Regions from separate parts of the Homo sapiens genome. Here region 1 is linked to region 2. The links come from fine-mapping of genetic effects on gene expression. A gene starts in region 2. The other region holds a variant in brackets. All regions are shown on one strand. Distances are between the middles of the regions.

Region 1 (12,916 bases), 43 kb before region 2:
ACTGTAAGAAATCCCACCAACCTTGAGCAGCACTGGATTCTATGTATACTACTGAACGCCTTGCCAACAGCAGTCTTCCAATAACTACCATTTCCTGACTGTATGACGGAAGGTCCAGCTCTGTCCCAACACTAATCAGGAAATAAGCTCTCTTCTTTCTAAGACCTCCAGGGCCTGTGTCGTACCAGACTTAAACAATGACCATATTGTAATTTCTGTTACCTGCGGTGGTACCATTCTCTCAAAACATCTATAGGATGTTTGTTTTGAGGCTGGTACAGTGTTTTCTCTAACTTTCTATAGTCCTCTGAGTCTAGCACAATGCCTTCATACTATTAAGGACTATACACTAAAAGAACTGCTGCACAAATGTGCCTGATTTTATTGTATTTTTAACACTGCAGAGTAGACCCACGACGATTTAGGAGTTCTGAACCCGAAGTCCAGGACTGAATCCTCTGAATTGGATCAAAATTCTCTGTGTATCCTCCATGCATTTTTCTGCAATGGTGAAGGGCATCTGTAGTCCCCAAAAAGGTGACATCAGAGCACTGGAGTTCTAATTTCAGTTGACCTGCTGATTTGGTTTGAACCCATGAATAAACACATTAACCAACTCCTGCTCCTGTCTCTTCCTCTAAAGGAAGAAGATACCATTTTCCTGAAACAGGAATTATAAAGGGATTTGAAATTACTTTCTGTCATTCTGCCCAGTGGTGCTCATGCAACAGGCTGACCCTTGGTACAGACTCACAGGCCTCCATTCTGGCAATCAGGCAATCAGATCTCAATCAAGGAAACACTTTTTCTTTTTTGGTTTGGTGTTTTTTGGTAGGGGGAGATGGAGTCGCCATCACCCAGGCTGGAGTACAGTGGCATGATCTCAGCTCACTGCAATCTCTGCCTCCTGGGTTCAAGCAATTATCCTGCCTCAGCCTACCGAGTAGCTGGGATTACATGCATGCACTACCACACCCGGCTAATTTTTGTATTTTTAGTAGAGATGGGTTTTTGCCATGTTGATCAGGCTGGTATCAAACTCCTGACATCAAGTGATCCGCCTGCCTCGGCCACCCAAAGTGTGGGGATTACAGGCATGAGTCACTGCGCCAGGCCTTCCAGCCTTTTTTTTTTTTTTTTTTTTTTGACACAGGGTCTTGCTTTCACCCAGTGCGGTGGTGTGATCACGGCTCACTGCAACCTTGACCTCCCAGGCTCAAGCAATCCTCCCACCTCAGCTTTCTGAGTAGCTGGAACTTCAGGCATGCACCATCATGCCCAGCTAATTTCTGTATTATTTTGCACAGATGGAGTTTCACTATGTTGCCCAGGCTAGTCTTGAACTCCTGTGGTCAAGTGATCCTCATGTCTCAGACTCCCAAAGTGCTGGGATTACAGGTGTGAGCCACTATGCCAGGCCAAGAAAACACATTTTTTTAATCTCAGGAAAAAAAGATTAATCCTTCTAACCAAAAATACCCTCCGAACAGCACACCTGTGAATAAGACCGACTGATCACTTGGCACTGAGGCATACTGCTAGAAAATTCACAACATGATTTCATTCTCGTTCCACACTCAGACAACTGTGAACCAATTACCAGCCTCATCCCCATTTCACTAAGAGACATGCTAGAGACCACAATGCTGCGAGTGTGGGGCCCACTTACCTTTTCCTCAGAGCCTAGCACAGTGCAAAGGCAGACACAGGTGCTTAAAAATGCTTTTCACGGGCCAGGCACGGTGGCTCACGCCTGTAATCCCAGCACTTTGGGAGGCAGAGACGGGCGGATCACGAGGTCAGGAGATCGAGACCATCCTGGCTAACACGGTGGAACCCTGTCTCTACTAAAAATACAAAAAATTAACCAGACGTGGTGGCGGGCGCCTGTAGTCCCAGCTACTCGAGAGGCTGAGACAGGAAAACGGCATGAACCGAGGAGGCGGAGCTTGCAGTGAGCCAAGATTGCACCACTGCATGCCAGCCTGGGCGACAGAGCGAGACTCTGTCTCAAAAAAAAAAACAGCTTTTCACCTAGGCGGTACTCAAATACCATACAATTCCATCTACATAAAATACAAAAACACGGCCAGGTGCGGTGACTCACGCCTATAATCCTAACACTTTGGGAGGCGGAGGTGGGTGGATCACTTGAGGTCAGGAGTTGGAGACCAGCATGGCCTACATGGTTAAAATGGTAAAACCCCATCTCTACTAAAAATACAAAAAAAAAAAAAAAAAATTAGCCAGGCGTGGTGGCTGGCACCCGTAATCCTAGCTACTCGGGAGGCTGAGGCAGGAGAAACATTTGAACCTGGGAGGCGGAAGTTGCAGTGAGCCAAGATTGCATCACCGCACTCCAGCCTGGGTGACAGAGTGAGACTTGGTCTCAAAAAACAACAACAACAACAAAAAAGAGAGGCCAGGTGCTGTGGCTCATGCCTGTAATCCCAGCACTTTGAGAGGCCAAGGTGGGTGGATCACAAGGTCAGGAGATCGAGACCACCCTGACTAACACATTGAAACGCTGTCTCTACTAAAAATACAAAAAATTTGCCGGGCGTGGTGGCGGACGCCTGCACTCCCAGCTACTCGGGAGGCTGAGGCAGGAGAATGGCGTGAACCCGGGAGGCAGAGGTTGCACTGAGACAAGATGGTGCCACTGCACTCCAGCCTGGGCGACAGAGTAAGACTCTGCCTCAAAAACAAAAAAACCCCACAAATCTAAGCAGATCTAAGCTGTTAGAAATCAGGGCAGTGGTTGCCCATAAGTATTGAGGTAGTCTTCTGGCAGGGCAGAAGGAGGGTTTCTGGGGTCCTGATAAATATATTTTGTGACCTACGTGCAGGTTACATGGGGGTACTGAGTTCATGAAAATCCATCAAGTTGTGGCTAGGTGCAGTGGCTCATGTTTGTAATCCCAGCACTTTGGGAAGCCAAGGCAGGCAGATCACTTGAGGCCAGGAGTTTGAGACCAGCCTGGCCAACACAGTGAAACGCCATCTCTACTAAAAACACAGAAATTAGCTGGGTGTGGTGGCGTGCACCTGTAGTCAGTCCCAGGTACTCGGGAGGTTGAGGCAGGAGAATCACTTGAACTCGGGAGGCGGAGGTTACAGTGAGCCGAGATCGCCCCATTGCATTCCAGCCTGGACGACAGGGCGAGACTCGGTCTCGAAAAAAAAAAAAAGAAAGAAAAAAAAAAAGGCAGTCTACGTGTTTTTTTGTCTGCCCCTATACTAGGTAGACAGCAAGATTCTGTTGGAAGAGGAAAATGTCCAGCATGAAATTCTAACACTGGAACTGTCAGGGACTGGTTTCATTTACACATAACGTTTATAACCTTGGCAGAGAAAAATGTATTGTTTTTAAAATTTATGTTAATTAGTCATAATTCAAATTGGCCTCTCCCTTTGCGCACAGAGGTAAGAGAAGCAAATCTTGTGCTTGCCTTGAGTGAGTGACAGGATCTTGGGGCAGCCAAAACCTCAGTTAAGTCTTGCTTCCCCGCTACGGAAGCCCCACATGCATGCACTGACCCCTGTGCGTTAAACCTGCAGCGCCTCTGGGAACAAAGGGGTGTACCTTATCTCCAGGCTGAAGGCCTTTTACCTTCCCTCGGATATTCTTCACCAGCTCTGGGTAGAAGAACTCTGGGCAGCGTTTGTGATCTGGTTCAAAGAGGGTGAGTGTAATCCGAACAGCTGCTGCAGCCGGCTCACAGTCCTGATGCTGTTCTCCTGCCCCAGCCTCCTCCTTCCGGGACTTCTTCAAAAACGCAGGATTCAGGGAACCTGGGAGAGAGGTGAACTGGACCCTGTGGGGCTCCGACATGGCTACCAACAAGTCTTAGCGGGTGTCACTGCATGGCTTCTGTTAACATTGAAAAGAAGGGCCAGGTCAAACGAAGATGATAAAATAGTTTACCTGCCTAATTAAAGAGATTTAAGTTTAAGAGAATTTCATTGTCAAGAAAACTCCATTGTTATATTTTGTCATTTATTGTTTTTTTCTGCTTATTCATCCTAAAATTTTTTCACAATCATTCAGAGATAGTCACTGCTTAGCATACTTCCAGTCTTTTTTCCTGTGCATGTGTATCCTAGATCCTTGACCTTAAAGAACCCATGCTGACAGAGCCTTAGACCTCCAAATTGTAAAGACTACTAAAATATTAATTATTTTCCATTTAATTTGTCTAACACTTATTTTTTCTGGCTGAGAATAATCTTTAAGACCCCTTTATTTTCATCACCAGCAGTTTCCTATCATTGGGAGCCAATCTTCACAATGACAAAGCTTTTATCAGCTGAACAAAAGATATTGCCTACCCCAGGATAGTAAAGAACCAGTGACTCAGGAGGGTGTGGCTAGGCTCACTTCCTAACAAAGTTACACACTCCTGCCCTGTGCACCACTCTCACACCCAAACACTGGCCTTGACAAAATAACAAATTATGACATGCCAAAGACCTTCAAAATCACTTGGGAATGGTCAAAATAGATTTTGAATACAGAATTCCAAATGTTCACAGAATATGAATATGCTAATACATGCCATACATGTTTTCTGCTTACTTCGTATACAATTTTGTGTCCTGCTTTTTAAAAGAGTTCATATTCTAGTGTGAACTTTCTACCATACCAATAAATAAAGATATTCATTGCAGCCTTGTTTATACAAGAAAAATGATGGAAGCAACCAAAATGACAATCAAATGACAATCAATCAGGGAATGGTTGAATAAATTGTGACTTTCTTATTGACTTGTAAGCGCTCTTGATATTATACATAAATTATTATACATTATAGATATACAAAATCTGTCATATCTCTTATAAGTACTTCTTCTTGTTTTGTTATTTGCTGTTTAGTGTTGCTTAGAGTGAGGTATGATGAAAGAAATGTTAACTTTTTTCTTTTTTTTTTGAGCTAGGGTCTCGCTGTTATATCCAGGCTAGAGAGCAGTGGCCCAATCACAGCCACTTCAGCCTCAACCTCCCAGGCTCAAGCAAACCTCTCACCACTTCAACCTCTCGAGGAGCTGAGACTACAGGTATATC[C/G]CACCATGCCTGGCTAATTTTTTCTATTTTTTGTAGAGATGCTGACCCACTATGTTGCCCAGGCTGGTCTTAAGCTCACAACCTCAAGCGACCCTCCTTCCAAGGAAATTATAACTTTGTATGCAGTTAAAACTAGGCTCTTTTCCTTTGAGACTCCTCCCATTTCTTTTATGCCTAGAATGTTCGTCTCCAACCAGATCTTATAGAAGAACTTGTGTATATAGGTTTTTTGTTTTTTGAGACAAGGTCTCACTCTGTTGCCCAGGCTGGAATAAAGTGACTCAATCTCAGCTCACTGAGGCCTCAACCTCCCAAGCTAAAGCGATCCTCCTACCTCAGCCTCCCTAGTAGTTGGAACTACAGGCGTGCTAATTTTTGTATTTTTTGTAGGGACGTTGTTTTGCCATGTTGCCCAGACTGGTTTTGAACTCCTGCTGGGATTACAGGTGTGAGCCACTGAGCCCAGCCTATATGGTCATTTATAGATATTTTTTCACATTTACTTCATTAACCCCAGATGAATTTGCTATGCTATAAAGTATGAGGAGAGGCTGTAACTTGGTTTCTTCCAGCATCAATCACTAAACAATCCTTCCTTCCTCTGCTGATTTGGCATATATTGCAAAGCAACATCACAGATATCTAAGGCCTGTTTCTGAAGTCCATGTGTCATATTAATACGGTATTTAGAGATTCTTTAATCAGTATTGCACTGTTTTGTAAAGTTTCATACTTTAATGTTGCAAAGTTAAAGCTCATGTTTATTATCCTTCTTTATAAATAATACTTTGCCATTCCAGCCTATGTATTATTTTGGCAGGTTTCAAAAAAACTCACTGTATTTTGGTTGTAAATCAATCACAAATGTGAGTTAATTCAGGAAAATTAGCATATATCGTATATATCCACATACATGTAGACGTATTTGTATATATCCAATATTCATTTGTCGAATTATGATCACAAAATCAACTTATAACATCACATAAGGGAACAAAATATCTACAAATGAAGAGTTAAAATAATTCTAATCAGGCGGCAAAACGATTAGCAGTGTAACAGGCTGGCGCTGCAAAAGACCATCTCCCAACACGTACTAAGATGTTAAAGGAGATTTCCCTAAAAGAAATCTCCAAGGCCCTCAGGATATTTGTGATGCGCTGGGTTGTGGAAATAAATCCCAGCTGAAGGCTTACAGATTCCCCCACTGATAGAACCGGAACAGTCTCACTATAAGAAGGGAATCAGCAAGTTAACCAATGGGATGCAGGAAGGTCATCCTTGAATTGGCAACCAGGTCCTACTCCCCCTGTCCAGGCAGTAAACACATAACCTTATCTCAGTCCAAGTCTGAGAGACTGCAGCTTCAATCCTAGATGGCAAAACTGCTCCTTTCAGTTGCTTAAGTGACTCTCCAGGCCCAAGAAGGTAAAAAATAGGACTACAGGATAAAGTGAGTCAAATCTGTACTCTATTACCACTTAGATTTGGGGTTGTTTTATAATCATTATAATGTTCTGCTGTTACTAAGCCATTTGAAACATTTAAGAGAATCCAATATATTTAACAATGGTACGTTAGACTTACAATCATAATTCAAAATGCTTAAGAAAATATAATTAAGTTCAAACATGTTTGAATGCTTAAAAAAAACTTACATTTATCTATTAGACTTACGAGAGTTGCCTAAGTCCTTGGAAAGATTTTAGCTTTTTTTGTGGTTTTTTTTTTTTTTTTTGTGAGACAGTTGCCTCACTCCTGTTGCCCAGGCTGGAGTGCAGTGGCACCATGAGAGCTCACTGCAGCCTCAACTTCCCGGACCCAGCACTTTGGGAGGCTAAGGCAGGATGATCGCTGGAGCCTAGGAGTTTAAGACCAGCCTGGACAACATGATGAGACTTCATCTGCACAAAAAAATTTTTTTTAAATTAGCCAGGTATGGTGGCACACCCCTGTAGTCTTGGCTACTAAGGAGGCTGAGGTGGGAGGATGGCTTTAGACTGGGAAGGTCCAGGCTGCAGTGAGCCGTGATCCTGCCACTGCACTCCAGCCTGGGCGACAAGAGTGAAACTCCGTCTCAAACAAAAAAAAGAAAAAAACAAAGATCCCCCTTTAAAAACCTCAGTTGGTGTTACTGAGAAAATACTAGCCTTCCTTGTCCCTTGGTTATCCTCAGCAATTTTTAATTTTTTCTTACTATATATATATATATCTCCTTCTAAACATTGTATTTTCAAACTGGTTATTGATGAAACAGAAAAACTAAATTGTGCATTCCAACTTATAATGAGTACCCTTCCTGAATTCTTATTTTAATGGGTTTTTTGGTTTTTGTTTTTGTTTTCAAAATAGGCAGACCTATCATCCACGGAAATGAGAATTCTGTCTTCCCTTTTCCAAAAATTGCATTTCTTATTTTTGTTTCCTGTCTTACTGCACTGGCTAGAACTTTCAGGTTTTAGGCAATATATTCTTATTATCTAATAGTGGTAGAAATGTACCATGTTTCTGATGTTAAGGGGAATGCCTCTAGGTTTTGGTGCAATGTTCATTTGAGATTTTTTTTTCTTTTTTCTTTTTGGCGGGGGGACGAGTCTCGCTCGCTCTGTCGCCTAGCTGGAGTGCAGTGACATAATCTCGGCTCACGGCAACCTCCGCTTCCCGGGTTAAGCGATTCTCCTGCCTCAGCCTCCCAAGTAGCTGGGACTACAGGCATGCGCCACCACGCCCGGCTAATTTTGTATTTTTAGTAGAGTACTGGGTTTGACCGTGTTGGCCAGGCTGGTCTCGAACTCCTGATCTCAGGTGGTCCACCCGCCTCGGCATCCCAAAATGCTGGGATTACAGGCTTATACCACCCTGCCCGGCCAAGATTCATGTTTTTATTTAAGTTATTAAAATCTCATTCAATTCCTCACAAATTCAGAATTTTTAAACAGGAACTTATGTTAAATTTTTATCAAATTATTCCCTGGAATCTTAAATACGCTTTAAAGATCACTTTGTCTTAAAAATACACACGCAGTAAATGACAGTCCGTGCAGCTAATTCTTGGTACTTCAGGGAAACTGATCTCCCAAGAAAAATCAGGCTGCGGGACGACCCAGTACGCTAAACACCGACTTGCAACCGAAATCTCTAACCACCACAATGCCTTGGGGAAATGCGTGTCGACTCGCCACCTTTGCCAGCTGGCAGTGACTCAACAAGAGCCCGACACCAAGTCTAAGTCAATCCTTAACACTGTGGAGTCTGTGATCGGGACTGGGATCTTTTGCAAAATTGTGATTCTACCTGGTCTGCTGAAGTTTGGGCCGACGCTGCGCTCAACTGCAGTTAACACTTCCCAGTTCATGGTTCAGTTTTAAAGTGTCCAAACTACGCCCGGCATCTGTCTTCCTGTTGTCACAACTTTTTCAAAAGTGCAAAACTAGGGCAAGGCTAACGAGAGAGCCCGGACCCGACAACGACACGCACCTTTGTCCCCAGCGCCGACGCGGGCCGCAGACGTCCCCCCGCGGCGGTCCTCATGCCGGTCCCCGGGCGGCGGCGCAGCTAGCGGTCGGCTGCTAAGCCGTGGCTCCCAGCGGGCGGGCGGCCCGCGCCTCGGCCCATGGCCGGGTCCCCGAGCCCAGGGGAGCCTGGTGTGCCGCGCCGCGCGCCGGCCCAGGAGGAAGCGAAGAAATGCCAACTCGACGTCCGCGCAGCCACTCCGGGGACACCAGGGGGTCGGGGGAGCAGCCTCCGGTCGCCCCAGGAGAACTTGCGGCGCGGGACCCCGCGCTCAGACGGCGCCTCCGAAAGCGGCCGTCGGGAGGAGCGCTCCAAAGAACACGGGCGGCGGGAGCGGACGGGCGCGGACACCGGGGCCTCCCGGCCTGCGGCCAAGCAGAGTTGCCGGGCGCGGGAGCCCAGACCCGGCGGAGGCTGAGTTCCAGGCCGCGCCGAGCTCCGTCAGGGTAGCTCACTGGCGCTGCGACGGGGCCGACCAGCGCCTCGGGCTCGGGAATGGCCCCGGGGCCCGCGCCGGACCAACGGGCGTAACGGAAGCGCCGAGAGGGGAGGGGCGCGGAGTCCAAGACCCGGGGGCGGGGCGAGCCGCGAGGCCGGCTCCCTCTCGCGCTCAGCCGGTCGCACCGTCGCCGCCGCCGCCGCCTCAGACCGCGGGCGCTTCGTTGTCACGAGCCGAAGGGAGGGGGAAGGAGCCGGGAGTCTCTGCGCTCCGGCGCGCGGAGACCGCGGCGCTCGCGTCACGTGCCCCTCGGTCGACCAATGATCCCCGGCGGGCGCGGTGACGTCAGAGTAGCGGCGTGGCCAGTGACAGCCGGCCCCCGTCACGTGGTCGGGCCCACTCCAATGGGCGGCGCCGGGGCGACTTGCTGTTCCCGGCGGCCCGTGCGTCGGCGGTGGTTGGGTGGTAAGATGGCGGCTGTGAGTCTGCGGCTCGGCGACTTGGTGTGGTGAGTCCGAGCGGCCGGGCCAACCGAGACGCGCCGGGGAGCTACCCGCCTGGGCGCGGGGTTCGCTGCCGGCCCTGGAGCTGCCTTTTTATGCGCTCCAGGTCGCGGAGAGAGGGGAAGAGAAGGTGCCGGCGCTTGCGAGCGGCGCCAGGCGGAAGGGGCAGTCCAGTCCCGGGGGACCGAGGCCGAGGGTGGCCACGTCGGGCACCGGCTTTGATCCCCGAGGCCGGCCGGGTGGGGTCTGCACTCGGGGCCCAGATACTGGCGGCCCCCGTGAAGGGAGCCGCCGGTGCCGCGAGGCTTCCCCGGACGACCGGTCCCCGGGGTCTTGTTGGGGCTTCCCAGAAAGCAGAAGCGCCGGGGACCGGACCTGCGAGATCTGGCCGGTGCCATTCGGTCAAAGCCCAGGTTGCGATGCAGCCGACCTGTGCGGCCGGCTCAGCCGGGGTTGTCTAAACCGGACTGCTGGCGTTGCCCCGCGAAGAAACGGCGGGGGGACTTCTCCTTTACAACCGATGGCTTGGCAGTGACCAGTGCACGCTTGGGTGCCTCCCGCGGTCTGCTTCTGTGTCCCAGACAACCGCCCGAACCAAGACTTTGTCGCCGCCTCCCTCGAGCTGCGTAGCTTGTTTCTCCACCCAGAGGAAGGCTTCCATTAGCATTTGTCAAAGCCAGGCAGGTCTCCTGTTGAATTAAACCAGACTTAGGGAGGGAAAGTCTGTGTTTACAGAGGAAGCTGTCCTCCCACCCCCGTCATTAAGAAGCTCTAGACAAGTGACTTTTGACAGTTGTGTTGTTCTGTATTCCTTGTCAACAGAAGAATGGATATGCGTTGTGCACATAAGTATACAATTTTGCATTTTACTTCTGAGGGTGTTGGGCCCAGCTATGAAAGCTTTTGTTTCGGCATTTGAGGATGCCAGCAGAGATTTAGGAAAATAAATTGCGTATTGAGTGGGTTGAAGGAGATGGACTGGCTTTTGCAGGGCAAGTGTTGACTCTTTGTGTTTTCTCTAGGGGGAAACTCGGCCGATATCCTCCTTGGCCAGGAAAGGTGAGTGTCTTGCTACTAAAGGAAGAGATCTGAAGTTGGGTTTGAAGAGGTGGAGAATGTAAGATGCATTCCTCTCAGTTTCTAGTATTGAGTTAAATTGGGCTCATTCAGATGGCACTTAGAATTTTTTTTCCCCTAGTATCGGTTATTTTTTAAAAGGCAATGCAGTATACACCAGATCATTAAATCTTCTCTAAACCCTTATTTCTGGATTTAGAGGAGGTTTATGAAGTTTCTTTTTTAACCCCGGAAATAATTCTAGTCTGAATTTAGCTTTATGCTTAAATGTAACAAAAGGAGAAGAAAATATAAATTATCCAGGAAGAAAGTCTAAATGTAGGTTAGTGAAAAGCCAAAGTATTTTTGTCCCAACTAAGTTTAAATCTTCTTTCCATGTTACCATATGTGCTACTCCAGTGCCTCTTTGCAGAAGTTGGCATTCCAGATTTTGCATGAGGTGATCCATCATTGCTTTCCAAATGTTGTGTTTTTATATTCTTGCTTGGAGCCCGGGAGGTGTCTTTAGATGGTCTCTTTGCAATATGGTGTTTTCTGTGCCTCGGTTGTCCTTTGTTTTCACTATGTCCTGTGTCAACCCTTCCTGCACAGGAAGTATTTCAAAGAGTGTCGTCTGCATTTTTTCAGTAATAATGGGGTCACATTGGAGCAGGGGTGGGGTGGTGGGGGGCAGGGGATGCTGTTGATCTTAGTTTTAACTGCTTGTAAAACAGGGCCACTGCAGTAAAAGGGATATTGTGTCTACTGAGCACTGTGCTACATGTTAAATATTGGGAACTTCTAGAATATCTACACATTTCCATACACCTCAATAGAAAAATGGGAGATTTAGACAAGTACTAGGCCTTGGGTTCTGTTTTGTATATAAATAAATTTATTTGTAAGTAAGTCCTTTTAATTTACTTTTTTCTTAGCAACGTAGAACTGTAGAGCAATGTGGAGCCACTAGAAAGTGGGCTGCTGTGTTGCCAGCCAACCTTTTTCCCCCCTTTTATCCTCCAGATTGTTAATCCACCAAAGGACTTGAAGAAACCTCGCGGAAAGAAATGCTTCTTTGTGAAATTTTTTGGAACAGAAGATCAGTGAGTAGTACTCACCAGGAGTCTCCCTTCGCCTTTCTTTCTGTGTTACCTGGAGTCTGAGCTGCTTTGAAAATATTCTAAGGATCCTTAGTTCAGTCTTCTTATAATGTGTAATACTGGCATCTCATTCTGCCTTCATACCTAAATAAAGGTGCAATTTCTTGCAGAAATTGCCCTAGACAACTGTCCTAGGTCTATAACTAAGTCAGGCAAGAACTAGGTTCATTTACCTTCTAACTATAACAATCACATTGAAACAGTTTCTCACATGTTTCTTTACCCAACTCCAAAGGCAGTTCCTTTTTGTTTGTTTTTGAGACAGAGACTTAGTCTGTCACCCAGCCTGGAGTGCAGAGGCAGTCTCAGTTCACCGCAACCTCTGCCTCACTGACTCAAGCGGTTCTCTCACCTCAGCCTCCCGAGTAGCTGGGACCACAGGTGTGCACCACCATGCCCAGCTAATTTTTTGTAGAGGGGGTTTTACCATGTTGCCCAGGATGTTCTTGAACTCCTGGACTCAAGCAATCCACCTGCCTTGGCCTCCCAAAGTGCTGGATTATAGGCGTGAGCCACTGCGCCCAGCTGGCAATTATTTTTATAAAAGCCATGTTCAGTTCTCTTTTAATGCCATATATCATTATGGTTCATGCTTGGGGTATACAGTGGAAACTTTTATTTATGTTAATAAAAGTAATTGTTCAATCATGTTCTCATGTGTAAAACTAAGTGATTTGCTTTGACATTGTTATAGTAAGTCTTTTTACCAGATCTGTCCTAAGTTGGGGAAACCAGGACCATTAATCTGAGACTCTGACCATATAACATGTTACAGTGACGGGAAGAACGTGAAGAACCTGTATTAACTTGAGTTGCTAGTGATTTGTTTAGCTTTTTATCACTATGTCAAGTGGCTTACCTGGGTCTAGCTAGATGGTTTGATTTTTTTTTTTTTTTTTTTTTGAGATGGAGTTTCACTCTGTCACCCAGGCTGGAGTGCAGTGGCATGATCTCAGCTCACTGCAACCTCCACCTCTCGGGTACAAGTGATTCTGGTGCCTGAGCCTCCCGAGTAGCTGGGACTACAGGCGCACACCACCACACCCGGCTAATTGTTTTATATTTTTTAGTAGAGACGGGGTTTCACCATGTTGGCCAGGCTGGTCTCAAACTCCTGACCTCAAGTCATCTGCCCCTCCCCCCCCCAACCCCCTCAGCCTCCCAAAGTGCTGGGATTACA
Region 2 (15,907 bases):
CAGGCTCCCGGCCTCAGCCTCCTGCCTTGGTAGGCCGCCAGGAGGCCTGGTCAGCAATTCTCTGGCCTGGCTGGCATGTTTGTTGTGCACTGCCTGCAGCTCACGTTAGGATCTGTGACTTTTGCAGTGTGATTTGTTCATCCAGGAGGGGGCCCGTCTGGGAAGAACCCCCGCTGAAGTCGTCTCAACCTGCGACATCACTTTCGCCTGCGTGTCGGATCCCAAGGCGGCCAAGGACGTAAGGACCCCCTCCCTCCCCTCAGCAACTCCGGGTCACAGCCAGGATTGCTGGCTGGCCTCTTCCCCTCCTCCCCTGCACACCAAGTGAGTGTCCACATGTGGGGGGCTGAATTTCCCATCAGGGGCCATCTCCCATTGTGAAGGGTGTTTGCATTAATTGAATACAGACTTCCTTTAATTCAGATCAAAGAATGAACACTACTAGGGCCCTTGAAGTCTGTGCTGAAATGTGTCTTGAACAGGCTTCATGTGTTCTTGTTGAACTAGAAGCTTTGGAACTGAATGTGCCTTTGGTCCAGGTGCCAAGCTTCTATGTTTAGCTGTCACTGTATTTGTATATTTTAGAAGTTCAAGTGTGGTAGTCATCTTATTAAACTGGTGACTAGCCTAATCCAAGTAAATCCAAAGAAGTCCCCAAAGTAAATGCTGAGGTTTATTCTTTTAAATGGGGTTTGTTTTTTTTTTTTTTTAAATAAAAAGAAATGCACACACTCACATAGATTCTTTTTAAAGATAAATGGGAGCATGCGGGAAGTACTTTTCTATCCCTTGCTTATTTCATTGTTCTTCCCTTTTCAGCTGATAGAAATCAGGAAATGAGCCAAAACAGCAGCAGGATTCTGATCTGAGGTCTGTAGGGCTCCTGAGCATCTGCCCGGGAGCCTGGGCTATTGCTTCTCCCTTGTGTCCCCACAGCTGGTGCTGGGCCCCAGTGGTGTGCTGCAAGGGATCCGCCCTGGGAAGTGCTACGTGGACATGTCAACAGTGGACGCTGACACCGTCACTGAGCTGGCCCAGGTAGCAGCCTTCCTTGGGCTGGCTCTCCAGCATCTTTTCTATCAGAGCCCAAGACCCAGGCTTACAAGAGTGGGCAGTTAAGTTACTCTAGAGCCAAAGCCAGAGAGGGAAGAGGAGAGGCGAGTAGCCTTGGGACTAGCCTATCCCGTGCTCCACCTTCAAACCGCAGCTAGTCTGAACAGCCATGGGCAGTCGCTGCATGGCTGGGATGGGCATCAAGTCCTGGAGCTGCCAGCCTTATGATGAGAAGCAACCCAGGCCGCCCGCCTGGCATTGGGGTTTGAGCAGCTGTCTGCATTTGACACTGGCAAAGCATCCCTCCTCCCCGAGCATCTGGCCCAAATAAGGGAGTGGGGACTTTGGGACCCACATATGTTCTGAGGGGAGGGCAGCATCCACAGGGGAGGTGTGTGTTCAGCCGAGCCATTGACATGGTCACATCTGGTTCTAGTTGTTGGTCTCTAAGAAATTCCAGTCCGGGCGCGGTGGCTCACGCCTGTAATCCCAGCACTTTGGGAGGCCGAGGTGGGCGGATCACGAGGTCAGGAGATCGAGACCATCCTGGCTAACACGGTGAAACCCCATCTCTACTAAAAATACAAAAAAATTAGCCGGACGCGGTGGCGGGCACCTGTAGTCCCAGCTACTTGGGAGGCTGAGGCAGGAGAGCGGCATGAACCCAGGAGGCGGAGCTTGCAGTGAGCTGTGATCGTGCCACTGCACTCCAGCCTGGGCAACAGAGCAAGACTCCGTCTCAAAAAAAAAAAAAAAAATTAGCCAGGCATGGTGGCGGTTGCCTGTAGTCCCAGCTACTGAGGAGGCTGATGCAGGAGAATGGCATGAACCCGGGAGGCAGAGTTTGCAGTGAGCTGAGATTGCGCCACTGCACTCCAGCCTGGGCAACAGAGCAAGACTCTGTCTCAAAAAAACAAAACAAAAAAATTCCGGCCAGGCGTGGTGGCTCACTCCTGTAATCCAAGCACTTTGGGAGGCCGAGGCGGGCGGATCACAAGGTCAGGAGATCAAGACAATCCTGGCTAATATGGTGAAACCTGTCTCTACTAAAAATACAAAAAATTAGCCAGGCGTGGTGGTGGACGCCTGTAGTCCCAGTTACTCGGGAGGCTGAGGCAGGAGAATGGCATGAACCCGCGAGGCGGAGCTTGCAGTGATCCGAGATCGCTCCACTGCACTCCAGCCTGGGCGACAGCGAGACTCCACCTCAAAAAAAAAAAAAAAATTCCAAGTCAGTTGGGTTCCTGTGTGGAGACCCCAGCGTCTCATCACTGCTGTGATTCGGCCTGTGTGACCTGCACATGGTTAGCTCCTGAGTTTAGGTGTCAGCTAAAGGACCTTGGTATGGGTGGCCGTCCCCTCCAGCTCTGGAAGGTGATGAGCAGCCGTGGCCACTCAGCAACACTCCTTGAGTCCTGCCCAGAGAGCGCTGGGAGAGGGGAGGCCTCCAGAAGCTGTGACTTTTCTTTCCAGGTGATTGTGTCCAGGGGGGGGCGCTTTCTGGAAGCCCCCGTCTCAGGGAATCAGCAGCTGTCTAATGACGGGATGTTGGTGATCTTAGCGGCTGGAGACAGGGGCTTATATGAGGACTGCAGCAGCTGCTTCCAGGCGATGGGGAAGACCTCCTTCTTCCTAGGTAACACGCCTGCACCTGTCAGGCCTGGAGCCTGGGGCCACATCTCCTCTGTTTCACACTGATGACAGCGTCAGTCCCACACGGCCTTTCTGCCGGGGACCCTGGGGAAGGTTTCCTTTCACCTGCATAGTCAGTGCGTGGAAGGAGGAAGAGCCAGTCTGTCGGGGGCAGGTGAAGGGGGCCTCCCCTGGAGAGAGGTGGGTCTGAGCAGAGGTGAGGGTGGACAGAGAAGCCCTGTCTGTGGCATTCTTGGGCTGTGACCGTGAGTCTTTACCCTGGGCAGGTGAAGTGGGCAATGCAGCCAAGATGATGCTGATCGTGAACATGGTCCAAGGGAGCTTCATGGCCACTATTGCCGAGGGGCTGACCCTGGCCCAGGTGACAGGCCAGTCCCAGCAGACACTCTTGGACATCCTCAATCAGGGACAGTTGGCCAGCATCTTCCTGGACCAGAAGTGCCAAAGTGAGTTGTTTTTGGCCCCTCTTCTTGCATTTGGTGTTTGATTAGAGCAGGGTACTAGGTCAGGGATTTAGTGAGCGTGAAAGATGCCCCTCCCCAGTCAGTCCCTGACCCTGGCCAGAGGAGGTTCAGAAACACAGTGGGCGGGATTTGGGGATATAGGCTGGGAGCTGCAGCCCTCAGGTGTCTAAGGGTGAGTGAGGAGCCAAGAGGCCTAGGCTATGTGGAACTGAGCCCTGAGTATGTTTTAGGTACTGACACCTGGTGGACCGTAAGTAGTTTTTAGTTTCAGGTCCTTGGCTTTTGTCTGATACTGGCTTTTTCTCCTCAGATATCCTGCAAGGAAACTTTAAGCCTGATTTCTACCTGAAATACATTCAGAAGGATCTCCGCTTAGCCATTGCGCTGGGTGATGCGGTCAACCATCCGACTCCCATGGCAGCTGCAGCAAATGAGGTAGGGTAGATGTGGCCCAAGCCCCAAGGCCCTTCAGTTTCTTTTTCTTTCTTTTTTTTTTTTTTTTAACGGAGTCTCACTCTGTCACCCAGGCTAGAGTGCACTGGTGCGATCTCAGCTCAATGCAACCTCCGCCTCCTGGTTTCAAGCAATTCTCCTGCCTCAGCCTCCTGAGTAGTTGGGATTATAGGTGCCCACCACCATGCCTAGCTAATTTTTGTATTTTTAGCAGAGATGGGGTTTCTCCTTGTTGTTCAGGCTGGTCTCGAACTCCTGACCTCAGGTGATCCACCCGCCTCTGCCTCCCAGAGTGCTGGGATTACAGGCATGAGCTACCACGCCCAGCCATTCAGTTTCTTTTTCTTTTTCTTTTTCTTTTATTTTGAGACAGAGTCTTGCTCTGTCGCCTCAGGCTCTTGCCACCACGCCCGGCTAATTTTTTTTTTTTTTTTTTTTTTTTTTTTTTTTTTAGTAGAGACAGGGTTTCACCATGTTAGCCAGGATGGTCTCGATCTCCTGACCTCGTGATCTGCCCGCCTCGGCCTCCCAAAGTGCTGGGATTACAGGTGTGAGCCACTACACCTGGCCAAGTTTCTTTTTCTTTTATCGTTTCCTTCCCTCTACTTAGTTTAGCTTTTCTTTGTTCTTTTTCTTTTTTTTGAGACAGAGTCTCACTCTGTCGCCCAGGCTGGAGTGCAGTGGTGTGATCTCAGCTCACTGCAGCCTCTGCCTCCTGGGTTCAATAGATTTTTGTGCCTCTGCCTCCCAAGTAGCCTCCCAAGTAGCCTGGGATTACAGGCGTGCCCCAACCCGCCCTGCTAATTTTTGTATTTTTAGTAGAGATGGGGTTTTGCCATGTTGGCTAGGCTGTTCTCCAACTCCTGACCTCAGGAGAGCCACCTGCCTCAGCCTCTCAAAGTGCTGGGATTACAGGTGTGAGCCACTGTGTCTGGCCTCTTTGTTCTTTTTCAAACCCTTTAAAGTGGAATCTTAAATCATTTATTTTAATCCTGCTTTCTTTATAACATGAGTATATAAATCTTTAAATGTCCACTAATCCGTGTTAATTTGTTTTCTGATTTCTTCTTTGATCCATGAATTACTTAAAAGTTTATCTAGTGTTTGGGTTTTCCTAGATATCTAATGATTATTGATTTTTAACTTACTGCTCTATGATCAAAGAACATGCCCTGCCCTGTATTGGGTTTTTTTTGTTTTTTTGTTTTTTGTTTTTTTGTTTTTTTTGGAGACAGAGTTTTGCTCTTTCGCCCAGGCTGGAGTGCAGTGTCGCGATCTCGGCTCACCGCAACCTCTGCCTCCCAAGTTCAAGCGATTCTCATGCCTCAGCCTCTTGAGTAGCTGGGATTACAGGCACACACCACCATACACAACTGATTTTTGTATTTTTAGTAGAGATGAGGTTTCACCATGTTGGCCAGGCTGGGCTTGAACTGCTGACCTCAGGTGATCCGTCCACCTCAGCCTCCCAAAGTGCTGGGATGACAGGCATGAACCACCACAACCAGCTGCCTGTATGATTTTTTTTTTTTTTTTTTTTGAGACGGAGTTTCGCTCTGTCACCCAAGCTGGAGTACAGTGGCACGATCTCGGCTCACTGCAAGCTTCGTCTCCCGGGTTCACTCCATTCTCCTGCCTCACCCTCCTGAGTAGCTGGGACTGCAGGCGCCTGCCACCATGCCTGGCTAATTTTTTGTATTTTTAGTAAAGACGGGGTTCCACTGTGTTAGCCAGGATGGTCTCATTCTCCTGACCAAGATGTTGAAACCCCTATCTCTACTAAAAATACAAAAAATTAGCTGGGCATGGTGGCAGGCACCTTTAATCTCAGCTACTCAGGAGGCTGAGGCAGAGAATTGCTTGAACCTGGGAGGCGGGAGGTTGCAGTGAGCCTAGATCGCACCACTGCACTCCAGCCTGGGCAACAGAGTGAGACTCCATCGCAAAAAAAAAAAAAAAAAAACGAAAGCTGCTACAGCCTTCTCAGGCTTATTGTTTTCATGGTATGTATATTTTTCCATCCATTTCCTCTCTTATTTATGTCTAAATTATGGCTTTGATAGACAGTATGTAATTGGGGTTTGGATTTTTATCCATTTTGACAGTATCTGCCTTTTAATTAGCATGTCTATTAGCATTTTTCAAATGATGTTTTAAGCACTTAACACGTGCACTTTTTTTATATTTGAGACACAGTCTCACTCTCTTGCCCAGGTAAAGTGCAGTGGCACAATTATAGCTCACTGCAGCCTTGACTTCCTAGGCTCAAGCAATCCTCCCACCTCAGCCTCCCGAGTAGCTGGGACTATAGGCGTGCACAACTGTATCCAACTTCACATACACTTTCGAAAAGCTTTTTAGGGTAGAAGTTCCGCTTTCTTAGCTCATCTTCATAGAATTTGAATCTAAAAAAAAAACAACTGAAAAACATTTGTCTTTACCATATTATTATAATAAAAATGACACTTTGTGAAACAGCAGCTGTATTTTTAAAGTACTATCAGCTGATACACTTTTATTTTATGTTATTTTATTTTATTTTATTTTATTTTAGAGACCGAGTTTCACCCTTGTTGCCCAAGCTGGAGTGCAATGGTGTAATCTCGGCTCACTGCAACCTCTGCCTCCTGGGTTCAAGTGATTCTCCTGCCTCAGCCTCCACAGTAGCTGGGATTACAGGTGCCTGCCAGTACTCCTGGCTAACTTTTTGTATTTTTAGTAGAGATACGGTTTCACCATGTTGGCCAGGTTGGTCTCAAACTCCTGACCTCAGGTGATCCACCCACCTCAGCCTACCTAAGTGCTGGGATTACAGGCGTGAGCCATGGCACCCAGCCAGTACTGTTCTTTTGACACCTGGCTTTTCATAGTATAATTCTCTGTTCCTGAATTGTATTTTTTTTTTTTTTTTTTTTTGAGACAGAGTCTCACTCTGTTGCCCAGGCTGGAGTGCAGTGACATGATCTCAGTTCACTGCAGCCCCCACCTCTTGGGTTAAAGTGATTCTCCTGCCTCAGCCTCCCAAGTAGCTGGAACCGCAGGCATGCACCGCCACACTTGGCTAATTTTTGTATTTGTAGTAGAGACAGGGTTTTACCATTTTGACCAGGCTGGACTCGAACTCCTGGCCTCAAGTAATCCGCCTGCCTTGGCCTCCCAAAGTGCTGGGATTACAGGCATGAGCCACCGCATGCAGCCTTGTTCCTAAATTCTGTCTTCTGTCTCTTGTCTGTTTCAACATTTCAGAGTACTTATTTCATGACTCTTTCAGATTACATTACTATTTCAAGTCCCCCCTGTTCATTCTACCAGTGGATTCTCTCTGGATAGTAGAATTCGTTGTGTATTTTATAAGTCTTTTTTGATGAAAGCTCATTTCTGACTATAGTTATTTCCCAAGGGTTTCATGTGGCTTGGGCTGGGAAAGCTTCTCTTTGAAGTGACTTCCAAGTTGCCTCCACCCTGACTACAGGATTCATTGGCTTGGAAGCAGAGTTTTTAGGTTAATTTCTCAATGCAGCTCGCTGCTTTCAGGTCGTTTGGATGGTATGAGCTTAGACTCTATACTGTTAGGAGTTCAGAGGTTAGGTTCTGAAGGTTAACTGGTGCATTGACCTTTAGTAGTTGTATTGATATGTGGTTCAATTTGGGGCTGCCATTTTATCATTTGATTTCTGTTCGTTGTCTTTGTCTTTTGTTTGTTCCTCCTTTCTTACTTTCTTTTTAGAATTCCAGTTTCAGCTGGGCACGGTGGCTGACACCTATAATCTCAACACTTTGGGAGGCTGAGGCGGGCAGATCACCTGAGGTCAGGAGTTCGAGATCAGCCTGGCCAATATAGTGAAGCCCAGTCTCTACTAAAAATACCAAAAATTAGCCGGGCATAGTGGCGGGCACTATTAATGCCAGCTACTCCGGAGGCTGGGACAGGAGAATCACTTGAACCCAGGAGGCGGAGGTTGCAGTGAGCCGAGATCGTGCCATTGCACTCCAGCCTGGGCGACAGACCAAGACTCCGTCTCAAAAAAAAAAAAAAAAAAAAAAGGGGCCAGGCGCAGTGGCTCACGCCTGTAATCCCAGCACTTTGGGAGGCCGAGGCGGGTGGATCACGAGGTCAGGAGATCAAGACCATCCTGGCTAACAGGGTGAAACCCTGTCTCTACTAAAAATACAAAAAATTAGCCAGGCGTGGTGGCGGGCGCCTGTAGTCCCAGCTACTCGGGAGGCTGAAGCAGGAGAATGGCGTGAACCCGGGAGGCAGAGCAGAGCTGGCAGTGAGCCGAGATCACACCACTGCACTCCAGTCTGGGCGACAGAGCAAGACTCCATCTCAAAAAAAAAAAAAAGAAAAAAGAATTCCAGTTTCATTTATCTATTTTCTTTTTTACTTTGCCTCTGCATTCTTTTTTTAGTGGTTACTCTACAGATTGCGGTATAAATCCTTAAGATAGAGTTAATCTTGCCAGGCACAGTGGCTTATACTTGTGATCCTTGTAATCCTAGCACTTTGGGAGGTCGAGGCAGGGTCGAGGCAGGGTCGAGGCTTAAGCAAGCCCAGGAGTTTGAGACCAGCCTGGGCAACATAGCAAGACCCCCATCTGTACAAAAAAAAATAAAAAACTAGCTGGGCGTGGTGGCGAGCACCCTATTCCTAGCTACTTGGGAGGCTGAGGCAGGTGAGGCAGGAGGATTGCTTGAGCCCAGGAGTTCGAGGCTGCAATGAGCCATGATCCTACCACTGCACTCCAGCCTGGGCAACAGAGCAAGACCCTGTCTCAAGAAAAAAAAAAAAGACAGTTAATCTTGTACCATTTCCCATTAAATGTAAAAACTTTGCAACCACACAGAAGCATTTCTTTCCCCCTTCCTCTCCCTCATCCTTTAAGGCAGGGTTTCTCAACCTCGGCACTGCTGCCATTCTGTGTGGGGGGGCTATCCAAGCACTGCAGGATGTTGGGTAGCCCACCCACCAGACGCCAGTGACATAGCTCCTCCTCAGGTGACAGAAAATGTCTCCAGATATTACCAGATGTCCCCTGGGGGCAGAAGCACCACAGGTGTGAGAACTCTCACTCTGAGGTATAGGTGTCCTGGGTGTTTCATCTGCCCTTGTTTTATTTTTTATTCATTTATTTATTTATTTGAGACAGTTTTGCTCTTTTTTTGTTTTTGAGACAGAGTCTCGCTCTGTCACCCAGACTGGAGTGCAGTGGTGTGATCTCAGCTCACTGCAACCTCCGCCTCCCAGGTTCAAGCTATTCTCCTGCCTCAACCTCCTGAGTAGCTGGGATTACAGGCACCTGCCACCATGCCCGGCTAATTTTTTGTATTTTTTTTTTTTAAAGAAGGGGTTTCACGACGGTCACCAGGCTGGTCTTGATCTCCTGACCTCGTGATTCACCCACCTTGGCCTCCTAAAGTGCTGGGATTACAGGCATGAGCCACTGCGCCTGGCCCTAATTTTTGTATTTTTAGTAGAGATGAGGTTTCACCTTTTTGGCCTGGCTGGTCTCGAACTCCTGACTTCAGGTGATCCACCCACCTCGGCCTTACAGGCATGAGCCGCAGTGCCCGGCCAATGCTGAATGTTTTATATCCCATAGTGTATTTCATTCTCACAAGATCCCCCGGGTACTGTTCCTTCTCCCAGAGCAAGAAGCACAGTGGCTGAGGTCCAGAGAAACGGAGGTGCTTCATGCAAGGTCAACACAGGATTCCTAACCGGACAGCCTGGGCTCCAGCACTGCCTGCTGGCCACATCCACCACTGCCTCCAGGAATCAGGTCTAGGTCTTGAAGGCAGCTCTGGGGCCAGAGACTGAGCCATCTCTTTTTTTTCCAGGTGTACAAAAGAGCCAAGGCGCTGGACCAGTCTGACAACGATATGTCCGCCGTGTACCGAGCCTACATACACTAAGCTGTCGACACCCCGCCCTCACCCCTCCAATCCCCCCTCTGACCCCCTCTTCCTCACATGGGGTCGGGGGCCTGGGAGTTCATTCTGGACCAGCCCACCTATCTCCATTTCCTTTTATACAGACTTTGAGACTTGCCATCAGCACAGCACACAGCAGCACCCTTCCCCTGAGGCCGGTGGGGAGGGGACAAGTGTCAGCAGGATTGGCGTGTGGGAAAGCTCTTGAGCTGGGCACTGGCCCCCCGGACGAGGTGGCTGTGTGTTCACACACACACACACACACACACACACACACACACACAGGCTCTCGCCCCAGGATAGAAGCTGCCCAGAAACTGCTGCCTGGCTTTTTTTCTTCCGAGCTTGTCTTATCTCAAACCCCTTCCAGTCAAGGAACTAGAATCAGCAACGAGAGTTGGAAGCCTTCCCACAGCTTCCCCCAGAGCGAAGAGGCTGTAGTCATGTCCCCATCCCCCACTGGATTCCCTACAAGGAGAGGCCTTGGGCCCAGATGAGCCAGTACAGACTCCAGACAGAGGGGCCCTTGGGGCCCTCCAACCTCAGGTGATGAGCTGAGAAAGATGTTCACGTCTAAGCGTCCAGTGTGCACCCAGCGCTCCATAGACGCCTTTGTGAACTGAAAAGAGACTGGCAGAGTCCCGAGAAGATGGGGCCCTGGCTTTCCAGGGAGTGCAGCAAGCAGCCGGCCTGCAGGTGAGCATGGAGGCCCGGCCCTCACCGCCTCGAAGCCATGCCCCAGATGCCACTGCCACAGCGGGCGCTCGCTCCTCCCTAGGCTGTTTTAGTATTTGGATTTGCATTCCATCCCTTGGGAGGGAGTCCTCAGGGCCACTAGTGATGAGCCAAGAGGAGTGGGGGTTGGGGGCGCTCCTTTCTGTTTCCGTTAGGCCACAGACTCTTCACCTGGCTCTGAAGAGCCACTCTTACCTCGGTCCCCTCCCAGTGGTCCCACCTTCTCCACCCTGCCCTGCCAAGTCCCCTGCATGCCCACCGCTCTCCATCCTCCCTCCTCTCCCTCTTCCTCCCGTGGAGACAGTATTTCTTTCTGTCTGTCCCTTTGGCCCAGACCCAGCCTGACCAACGATGAGCATTTCTTAGGCTCAGCTCTTGATACGGAAACGAGTGTCTTCACTCCAGCCAGCATCATGGTCTTCGGTGCTTCCCGGGCCCGGGGTCTGTCGGGAGGGAAGAGAACTGGGCCTGACCTACCTGAACTGACTGGCCCTCCGAGGTGGGTCTGGGACATCCTAGAGGCCCTACATTTGTCCTTGGATAGGGGACCGGGGGGGGCTTGGAATGTTGCAAAAAAAAAAGTTACCCAAGGGATGTCAGTTTTTTATCCCTCTGCATGGGTTGGATTTTCCAAAATCATAATTTGCAGAAGGAAGGCCAGCATTTACGATGCAATATGTAATTATATATAGGGTGGCCACACTAGGGCGGGGTCCTTCCCCCCTCACAGCTTTGGCCCCTTTCAGAGATTAGAAACTGGGTTAGAGGATTGCAGAAGACGAGTGGGGGGAGGGCAGGGAAGATGCCTGTCGGGTTTTTAGCACAGTTCATTTCACTGGGATTTTGAAGCATTTCTGTCTGAACACAAAGCCTGTTCTAGTCCTGGCGGAACACACTGGGGGTGGGGGCGGGGGAAGATGCGGTAATGAAACCGGTTAGTCAATTTTGTCTTAATATTGTTGACAATTCTGTAAAGTTCCTTTTTATGAATATTTCTGTTTAAGCTATTTCACCTTTCTTTTGAAATCCTTCCCTTTTAAGGAGAAAATGTGACACTTGTGAAAAAGCTTGTAAGAAAGCCCCTCCCTTTTTTCTTTAAACCTTTAAATGACAAATCTAGGTAATTAAGGTTGTGAATTTTTATTTTTGCTTTGTTTTTAATGAACATTTGTCTTTCAGAATAGGATTGTGTGATAATGTTTAAATGGCAAAAACAAAACATGATTTTGTGCAATTAACAAAGCTACTGCAAGAAAAATAAAACACTTCTTGGTAACACAGCTGTGCCGCAGGAGTCCTGCTTCCCTCGTCCTCGGCGAGATGGGTGGGAGGAGAAGGCAGCGGCGGGGCCGGGGTGGGTTTTCGGGACCTCCGCGTCCGGGGTGAGACGGACTTGGGAGTGGCGGCGAGGTCCGCGGCAGGGTTGGAACCACGACCAATGGAGCCAAGCGGGCCAATAGGGAGGAGGAGCGGGGACAGACTGTCCTGCCGGCCAATGAGTGAGCGCGAGTGGAGCAGAGCGCCCTATCATATCCTGGGGGCGCCCCGGGAGCTCCGCCCCCAAGCGGGCGCCCCAGGCTGGTGCCGGCCGCGTCCCTGGCCAGCCGGAGCAAGCCTGACTCGTGCAGCCGCCGGCCGCGTCCCTGGCCAGGCGGAGCGAGCCTCACTCCCGCAGCCGCCAGTCTGGTTCCAGGGCTCCCGCAGGTTTCGGGGGCCGAGGCGGACCGACAGGCGCCAGCCAATCGCGAGCACGGAGCCGGCCTGGGGGCGGGGTGGTACCCGCTCCGCCAATCGGGTGGGGGCGGAGCCAGACGCCGGGGGCGGACGGGAGGACCGGAGGACCGAGGACAGAAAGATTGGTGGACAGGAGCAGCGGCCGGTGGGGAGGGCGCTCGGCGGCGGCCTGCGGCCATGGCCACCGTGATGGCAGCGACGGCGGCGGAGCGGGCGGTGCTGGTAAGGCGCGCGGGCCAGCGGGCGGGCCGGCGGGGCGGCGGGGCCGGGCGCGACCGCCGGGTCTGTCCCGCAGGAGGAGGAGTTCCGCTGGCTGCTGCACGACGAGGTGCACGCTGTGTTGAAGCAGCTGCAGGACATCCTCAAGGTAACGACCCGCGCCCTGCCCCGCCGGGCGTGGCGGCCCTCCCTCCTCATTTCCCTGGCTCCACCTGGGGCCGCGCGGCTGCGTCCTGAGCGCCTACAGTGTGCGGCTGCCGCGGCTTTCAGGCAGGGCCCCGCCTCCGCGAACTCGAGCCGACCTCATTATATAAGTACCTGTGTGCGGGCAGGGGCGGGTCCCGACGAGGGTGCTAGCAAGGGCCTGAGTCCCGCCCGGCCTCGGGTCGGGGAAGGCCGCCTTGGGAGCAGCGGCATCCAATCTGGGAGCCGAAGAATTCTGCCTCTGCCTGGCAGTGTGACTTCAGCCAAGTCACTGAACCTCCCTGGGCCTCCCTTTTCTCATTGGCAAAAGGGAGATAACAGTACCCGCTTCGCGAGGCTGGGGTGTAGATAAATGAGCCAGGCAGCTCACAGAAGTAACCGGCGTAGTGCTTGCTGTGGCCCAGGACCGCGGGTTACCATAACTACTGCCTTGTTCCCTGACTCTGCCCCTTGCCCCTTTCCCCCTCAACCAAGCTGGGAGGCTGCCCCTGTCTGTTTTGTATTCCCCGAGGCGGGCACACAGGAGGTGTTCAGGGAATGTGGTATAAGCAGAGATCGGGCTCACGGTTAGGTGCCCTGGGGGCTTGGGCAGGGTCTTCCCACCCCAGCTGAACCCAGGTGAGGCCAGGCCACGTTGTTCCTTCCCCCCGCTGACTTGGAGGGAGGGGGGCTTCTGGAAGGAGCACTGGGCCGGGCCTGAGTGGGCGCTACCAGCTCCCCTCCTTCCCTCTGTTCCACAGGAGGCCTCTCTGCGCTTCACTCTGCCGGGCTCCGGCACTGAGGGGCCCGCCAAGCAAGAGAACTTCATCCTAGGCAGCTGTGGGTGAGCCTGGGCTAGGCGGAAACCGGGGAAATGGGTACCTTGGGGGGTAGGAGGCATGGCCATAGCCCTGTCCTGCAGACCAGCTGGTTGTGCGATGGGACAGGAGGGGCAGCCCGCCGGGAGGGAGGGCTGGGTGGTGGGGGGGTGACCACAGGCACCGCTCTGACGCCACATGTTACAGCACAGACCAGGTGAAGGGTGTGCTGACTCTGCAGGGGGATGCCCTCAGCCAGGCGGTGAGTCCCCCGGCCCTGTCCCCTCCCATCCTGCCAATGGGGAAGAGCATGGGAGCTCCCACTTTCTCTCTGTACAAGCCCTGCGACTCTGGGCGGGACCCTTGATCTCTCTGGCCTCAGTTTTCTCCTTTGGAAAATGACAGCAACCCTCACACCTTCTCCCGGGATCGGTGTGCAGATTCAGTAAGAGGTGCAGGAGAGGGGTTCTTTGCACACGGCCTGGCCTGGCGTCCGGACCAGTGAAACATGGGCATTGGTGGATTAGGCTGGCCACACATCACAGTTGAATCAGCCAATGCCTGAACTCCAGTCTGCACCCGACTCTGTGCCAGGCACCAAGGCGTGGGGGGAGGCCCCCCTCCTGGGCTCCATCTGTTGCCCTTTGTAGACACTAGATGCACCCCGTTCGCACAGAGCCTCACAGAGGCTGCCTTTCCTCTTCCCCTTCCCCTTTCTTCACCTCTTTCCATTTCACTTCTTTGTGGCTCTTCTTGGGCCTGGTTTCCTGTTTCCTGACCTCCCTGTTCAACCCCCAAACGGCCAAGGCATTGGGAGACCCTCTGCCCTATACAGCGGCCAAGGCCTGAACCACCACACACCCCATTTCTGCCCTGGGCTTAAGGGCTCAGAGTGGCTGTGGCAGGAGGTGCCCCCCCACTGCCCAGCTCACCCCACTCTTGCCTGTCAGGATGTGAACCTGAAGATGCCCCGGAACAACCAGCTGCTGCACTTCGCCTTCCGGGAGGACAAGCAGTGGAAGCTGCAGCAGGTGACCCCGCCCCTCCTGGCTAGTGCTCAGCCACAAGGACAGGCGGCAGCAGGCCTGCCGCGGGGCCTCCCTGGAGAGGGACTAGCCCTGGGGATCTGTGGCCACAGCAAGCCTGGGAGGGTGTTTCCTAACAGCAAAGCTGGGGGCAGGCGTTTCCTGAAGCCCTGGAGGCTGCGCCATGTGGGGAGGTAGAGAACCTGGCCTGAGAGCCCCGAGGGCCACATCGGGACTGTGGAGTCCCCACAGCAGCTGGCTGGATGAGATGGTTCAGAAGCCCTCTGAAAAGTCACTCCCTTGCCCAGAGCCTCCAGGGACTTGCCATGGCTCTGGGGATGAGGCCCATGCTCCCTGGCAGCTCCTGTACCAATGGGCCCCAGCCTCCTCCCCTGCCCCCTCCACCCCGACTGTCTCCATCTCAGCACCCTTGCCCCTGCCTTGTCGCCCTGTTTGCTTCCCTCCGCAACTCGCACAGACTCTTGTCTTGGGCATTACTGTGTGTCCATCCCTTAGAAAGGAGGGGGCAGTCAGCTTGGGCAGAGACCAGGCCTGCCCCAGGTGATGCCAGATGCCCATCACCTGGCGTGGACCTGGCCCTCTGGGGCACAGGGATGACAGTGTGGAGAGTGGAATGACGTGGGGCAGGCAGGCAGCACCCACTCTCCCCTCCTGGCCGCATGGAAGCTGGCGTGACCCCTCTGGATGACCCCTGCTTCCAGATCCAGGATGCCAGAAACCATGTGAGCCAAGCCATTTACCTGCTTACCAGCCGGGACCAGAGCTACCAGTTCAAGACGGGCGCTGAGGTCCTCAAGGTGAGCTGCCCCCGGGCCTGACTCCTGGGCCTAGTCCCACGTTCTTGATCCGGAATCACACCTGGGTTCCAATCCCAGGGCCTCCACGTTGAGCTGTGCAACCTGTAAGCACTTACCTGCCGACTCTGTGTCTCCATTTCTACCTGTGGGGTCAGGGGCAAGCTGGAGTGACTGTTCACCATAATAATTCAGGTCACGGGGCCCCCAGTAAGCACTCGGCACACACCACTGCCGGTAGCAGCAGTGAAAGCCTTCACATTAACCGCGTGGCACATGTGAAGAGCTGACCTGGGCACCTGACCTCATGCTTGAGTTCTGCCCCTGACTTGCTGTGTGTCCTCCGGTGGTTCACCTGCCCTCTCTGGACCTCTGTTTCCTCACACTTAGAACCAGATAGACTAAGATCCCTTCGAGAACTGTAACCACCCTAGGGTGCTACAGGCCCTATACCCCCAGTCAGCTCTTACGTGTTTCCTGGGAGCCACATCACCCTGGTACTCATGGCCACGGCTGAATGGCACGAAAGCTGGGGCTCTGAGGAGTCTGCCAGGGCTCTGCTCCACGGCAAAGGGAAGGAATGGGCTCCAGGTGGTCCCACCATCCATCAGCCGTGACCCTGGCTTACCCCCCTGAAAACCTCAACCCAGTCATCCATCGCCTCTTCCAGGAAGCCCTCTCTGGCCCTTTACAACCAACCTTTGTTGCCTGTACCCCTGTCCACAAAGCCTGTGCCCCTGGGACTGACCTCCCAGGACCTTCCATTCCCCATTGATCCAGCACCCAGGATCCCCGTGCAGTGAATCAGCCCCATCCCGACT

The links. PIP is the estimated chance that this variant, and not a neighbour inherited with it, causes the effect.
Region 1: its variant is fine-mapped to the expression of ROGDI in prostate (GTEx, PIP 0.92).

The regions. Positions count from the first base shown.
Region 1 is chr16:4,843,837-4,856,752 of GRCh38, reverse strand. It overlaps UBN1 (ubinuclein 1), which reads right to left and starts at 9,272. Exons shown (of 18, transcript NM_001079514.3): 1 at 8,543-9,272; 2 at 3,587-3,874. The coding sequence starts at 3,835. GLYR1 (glyoxylate reductase 1 homolog) reads left to right here and starts at 9,465. Exons shown (of 16, transcript NM_032569.4): 1 at 9,465-9,525; 2 at 10,543-10,579; 3 at 11,600-11,679. The coding sequence starts at 9,488. RefSeq lists enhancers at 3,684-4,883, 8,464-9,306, 9,602-9,661, 9,962-10,021 and silencers at 8,592-8,681, 8,692-9,411. The variant C/G (reference allele first, on the strand shown) is at 5,066.
Region 2 is chr16:4,798,868-4,814,774 of GRCh38, reverse strand. ROGDI (rogdi atypical leucine zipper) reads left to right here and starts at 12,142. Exons shown (of 11, transcript NM_024589.3): 1 at 12,142-12,248; 2 at 12,322-12,393; 3 at 13,190-13,272; 4 at 13,454-13,508; 5 at 14,197-14,277; 6 at 14,994-15,089. The coding sequence starts at 12,204. GLYR1 (glyoxylate reductase 1 homolog) reads left to right here. Exons shown (of 16, transcript NM_032569.4): 11 at 128-238; 12 at 937-1,038; 13 at 2,527-2,689; 14 at 2,973-3,152; 15 at 3,481-3,605; 16 at 9,465-11,572. The coding sequence ends at 9,539. RefSeq lists enhancers at 9,793-10,087, 12,134-12,634 and silencers at 11,635-11,846, 11,739-12,528, 12,569-12,628.